Linked DNA regions of Homo sapiens: region 1 is linked to region 2. The links come from fine-mapping of genetic effects on gene expression. A gene starts in region 2. The other region holds a variant in brackets. All regions are shown on one strand. Distances are between the middles of the regions.

Evidence for each region.
Region 1: its variant is fine-mapped to the expression of FGG in lung (TOPMed, PIP above 0.99).

Annotation. Positions count from the first base shown.
Region 1 is chr4:154,589,508-154,592,007 of GRCh38, reverse strand. FGA (fibrinogen alpha chain) reads left to right here and starts at 1,266. Exons shown (of 5, transcript NM_021871.4): 1 at 1,266-1,374; 2 at 2,446-2,500. The coding sequence starts at 1,321. The variant C/G (reference allele first, on the strand shown) is at 1,193.
Region 2 is chr4:154,611,190-154,614,227 of GRCh38, reverse strand. FGG (fibrinogen gamma chain) reads left to right here and starts at 1,572. Exons shown (of 9, transcript NM_021870.3): 1 at 1,572-1,696; 2 at 1,793-1,837; 3 at 2,027-2,210; 4 at 2,330-2,423. The coding sequence starts at 1,619. RefSeq lists an enhancer at 358-1,530.

The sequences.
Region 1 (2,500 bases), 22 kb after region 2:
AAGAAAGATCATACAGTATTTGTCTTTCTTTTCCGTTTTTTTTTTTTTTTTTGAGAAGGAGTCTCACTCTGTGGCCCAGGCTGGAGTGCAATGATGCAATCTCGGCTCACTGCAACCTCCTCCACCTCCCGCGTTCAAGTGATTCTCCCTGCCTCAGCCTCCTGAGTAGCTGGGATTACAGGTGCCTGTCACCACGACCAGCTAAGCAGTATTTGTCTGTCTATATCTGCTCATTTCACTTAGGATAATGCCCTCTAGGTTCATCAATGTTACTGCAAATGACAGAATTTCCTTCTTTTTCAAGGCTGAGTAATACTCCATTGTGTATATATATATATACACATTTTCTTTATCTACTCATCCATCAGTGGAAACAGGTTGTTTTCATATCTCGGCTATTGTCAATATAGCTACAATGAACATGGGAATGCAGGTGTCTCTTCAAGATCCTGATTTCATTTCCTTTGGAAATACACTCAGAAATGAGATTGCTAGCACAGAAACAGGAAATAAATGGTATTTTTCATGGCACTTTATGATCTCCCATAATTCACTGAGTATTTCCTATGTGACAGTCACTGTTCTGAGAGATTTACAAGAATTAACTCATTTATTCTTCATAAAAGCATGGGGTAGCTTATCAGCATCCTTATTTTATAAATGAGGAAACTGAAGTATAAAGAGGTAAAGTAACTTGTCCAAGAACATAGAGCAGGGAAGTGGTGCAGCTTGGATTATGAACCCAAGATGTTTTGTTCCTGGGGCTGCTGTCATCTTAATATTTTAAATAGAGAAAAGTAATATGTTCTAAATAAACTTATAGAAAGCCTTCAGGGCCAGCTTATCCCCAAAGTTATTTTTTTTATAAGCCAGATCACCCAACCCTAATTTCTGCATAAAGTGAAATATTGTTTGCTAAATCACTACTACTGGGGGCTACAGCTAGCTTACCTAAGCACCTTCTATATTCTTTCACGTTTAGAAATATGGATATACCCTCCTATGCTCCTCTTTTCATTCTCAAAGCCACCCTGTTCCTGGAATGTGAGATCTCCTAATTGTTGACTGGAGAATCAAATGCTACCTTTGCAACAGCTTATCGGAAGCAAACAAGCTGAGGGGAATTGAGCAAGAATTTCTGGGATACCAACAGCATAGGAGGAACAAAGGACGTAGAGGGAGGGTTGACTGT[C/G]TACACAGGACAAAGCCAATGATTAACCAAACCTCTTGCAGATTTAAATAGGATGGGAACTAGGAGTGGCAGCAATCCTTTCTTTCAGCTGGAGTGCTCCTCAGGAGCCAGCCCCACCCTTAGAAAAGATGTTTTCCATGAGGATCGTCTGCCTGGTCCTAAGTGTGGTGGGCACAGCATGGGTATGGCCCTTTTCATTTTTTCTTCTTGCTTTCTCTCTGGTGTTTATTCCACAAAGAGCCTGGAGGTCAGAGTCTACCTGCTCTATGTCCTGACACACTCTTAGCTTTATGACCCCAGGCCTGGGAGGAAATTTCCTGGGTGGGCTTGACACCTCAAGAATACAGGGTAATATGACACCAAGAGGAAGATCTTAGATGGATGAGAGTGTACAAACTCACAAGGGAAACTTTAGCATCTGTCATTCAGTCTTACCACATTTTGTTTTGTTTTGTTTTAAAAAGGGCAAGAATTATTTGCCATCCTTGTACCTATAAAGCCTTGGTGCATTATAATGCTAGTTAATGGAATAAAACATTTTATGGTAAGATTTGTTTTCTTTAGTTATTAATTTCTTGCTACTTGTCCATAATAAGCAGAACTTTTAGTGTTAGTACAGTTTTGCTGAAAGGTTATTGTTGTGTTTGTCAAGACAGAAGAAAAAGCAAACGAATTATCTTTGGAAATATCTTTGCAGTATCAGAAGAGATTAGTTAGTAAGGCAATACGCTTTTCCGCAGTAATGGTATTCTTTTAAATTATGAATCCATCTCTAAAGGTTACATAGAAACTTGAAGGAGAGAGGAACATTCAGTTAAGATAGTCTAGGTTTTTCTACTGAAGCAGCAATTACAGGAGAAAGAGCTCTACAGTAGTTTTCAACTTTCTGTCTGCAGTCATTAGTAAAAATGAAAAGGTAAAATTTAACTGATTTTATAGATTCAAATAATTTTCCTTTTAGGATGGATTCTTTAAAACTCCTAATATTTATCAAATGCTTATTTAAGTGTCACACACAGTTAAGAAATTTGTACACCTTGTCTCCTTTAATTCTCATAACAACTCCATAAAATGGGTCCTAGGATTTCCATTTGAAGATAAGAAACCTGAAGCTTGCCGAAGCCCTGTGTCTGCTCTCCTTAATCTCTGTGAGAGTGCCATCTCTTCCTGGGGACTTGTAGGCATGCCACTGTCTCCTCTTCTGGCTAACATTGCTGTTGCTCTCTTTTGTGTATGTGAATGAATCTTTAAAGACTGCAGATAGTGGTGAAGGTGACTTTCTAGCTGAAGGAGGAGGCGTGCGTGGCC
Region 2 (3,038 bases):
AATATAGAAAGTTTACAGAGAAAAATAAAGCCTTTTTTTCCAATCCTGTCCTCCACCTCTGCATCCCATTCTTCTTCACAGAGGCAACTGATTCAAGTCATTACATAGTTATTGAGTGTTAACTACAACTATGTTAAGTACAGCTATATATGTTAGATGCCGTAGCCACAGAAATCAGTTTACAATCTAATGCAGTGGATACAGCATGTATACATATAATATAAGGTTGCTACAAATGCTATCTGAGGTAGAGCTGTTTGAAAGAATACTAATACTTAAATGTTTAATTCAACTGACTTGATTGACAACTGATTAGCTGAGTGGAAAAGATGGATGAGAAAGATTGTGAGACTTAATTGGCTGGTGGTATGGTGATATGATTGACAATAACTGCTAAGTCAGAGAGGGATATATTAAGGAGGAGAAGAAAAGCAACAAATCTGGTTTTGATGTGTTCACTTTGTTATAATTATTGATTATTTACTGAATATGAATATTTATCTTTGTTTTTGAGTCAATAAATATACCTTTGTAAAGACAGAATTAAAGTATTAGTATTTCTTTCAAACTGGAGGCATTTCTCCCACTAACATATTTCATCAAAACTTATAATAAGCTTGGTTCCAGAGGAAGAAATGAGGGATAACCAAAAATAGAGACATTAATAATAGTGTAACGCCCAGTGATAAATCTCAATAGGCAGTGATGACAGACATGTTTTCCCAAACACAAGGATGCTGTAAGGGCCAAACAGAAATGATGGCCCCTCCCCAGCACCTCATTTTGCCCCTTCCTTCAGCTATGCCTCTACTCTCCTTAGATACAAGGGAGGTGGATTTTTCTCTTCTCTGAGATAGCTTGATGGAACCACAGGAACAATGAAGTGGGCTCCTGGCTCTTTTCTCTGTGGCAGATGGGGTGCCATGCCCACCTTCAGACAAAGGGAAGATTGAGCTCAAAAGCTCCCTGAGAAGTGAGAGCCTATGAACATGGTTGACACAGAGGGACAGGAATGTATTTCCAGGGTCATTCATTCCTGGGAATAGTGAACTGGGACATGGGGGAAGTCAGTCTCCTCCTGCCACAGCCACAGATTAAAAATAATAATGTTAACTGATCCCTAGGCTAAAATAATAGTGTTAACTGATCCCTAAGCTAAGAAAGTTCTTTTGGTAATTCAGGTGATGGCAGCAGGACCCATCTTAAGGATAGACTAGGTTTGCTTAGTTCGAGGTCATATCTGTTTGCTCTCAGCCATGTACTGGAAGAAGTTGCATCACACAGCCTCCAGGACTGCCCTCCTCCTCACAGCAATGGATAATGCTTCACTAGCCTTTGCAGATAATTTTGGATCAGAGAAAAAACCTTGAGCTGGGCCAAAAAGGAGGAGCTTCAACCTGTGTGCAAAATCTGGGAACCTGACAGTATAGGTTGGGGGCCAGGATGAGGAAAAAGGAACGGGAAAGACCTGCCCACCCTTCTGGTAAGGAGGCCCCGTGATCAGCTCCAGCCATTTGCAGTCCTGGCTATCCCAGGAGCTTACATAAAGGGACAATTGGAGCCTGAGAGGTGACAGTGCTGACACTACAAGGCTCGGAGCTCCGGGCACTCAGACATCATGAGTTGGTCCTTGCACCCCCGGAATTTAATTCTCTACTTCTATGCTCTTTTATTTCTCTCTTCAACATGTGTAGCAGTAAGTGTGCTCTTCACAAAACGTTGTTTAAAATGGAAAGCTGGAAAATAAAACAGATAATAAACTAGTGAAATTTCTGTATTTTTTCTCTTTTAGTATGTTGCTACCAGAGACAACTGCTGCATCTTAGATGAAAGATTCGTAAGTAGTTTTTATGTTTCTCCCTTTGTGTGTGAACTGGAGAGGGGCAGAGGAATAGAAATAATTCCCTCATAAATATCATCTGGCACTTGTAACTTTTTAAAAACATAGTCTAGGTTTTACCTATTTTTCTTAATAGATTTTAAGAGTAGCATCTGTCTACATTTTTAATCACTGTTATATTTTCAGGGTAGTTATTGTCCAACTACCTGTGGCATTGCAGATTTCCTGTCTACTTATCAAACCAAAGTAGACAAGGATCTACAGTCTTTGGAAGACATCTTACATCAAGTTGAAAACAAAACATCAGAAGTCAAACAGCTGATAAAAGCAATCCAACTCACTTATAATCCTGATGAATCATCAAAACCAAGTGAGAAAATAAAGACTACTGACCAAAAAATAATAATAATAATCTGTGAAGTTCTTTTGCTGTTGTTTTAGTTGTTCTATTTGCTTAAGGATTTTTATGTCTCTGATCCTATATTACAGATATGATAGACGCTGCTACTTTGAAGTCCAGGAAAATGTTAGAAGAAATTATGAAATATGAAGCATCGATTTTAACACATGACTCAAGTATTCGGTAAGGATTTTTGTTTTAATTTGCTCTGCAAGACTGATTTAGTTTTTATTTAATATTCTATACTTGAGTGAAAGTAATTTTTAATGTGTTTTCCCCATTTATAATATCCCAGTGACATTATGCCTGATTATGTTGAGCATAGTAGAGATAGAAGTTTTTAGTGCAATATAAATTATACTGGGTTATAATTGCTTATTAATAATCACATTGAAGAAAGATGTTCTAGATGTCTTCAAATGCTAGTTTGACCATATTTATCAAAAATTTTTTCCCCATCCCCCATTTATCTTACAACATAAAATCAATCTCATAGGAATTTGGGTGTTGAAAATAAAATCCTCTTTATAAAAATGCTGACAAATTGGTGGTTAAAAAAATTAGCAAGCAGAGGCATAGTAAGGATTTTGGCTCCTAAAGTAAATTATATTGAATGTGGAGCAGGAAGAAACATGTCTTGAGAGACTAAGTGTGGCAAATATTGCAAAGCTCATATTGATCATTGCAGAATGAACCTGCATAGTCTCTTCCCTTCATTTGGAAGTGAATGTCTCTGTTAAAGCTTCTCAGGGACTCATAAACTTTCTGAACATAAGGTCTCAGATACAGTTTTAATAT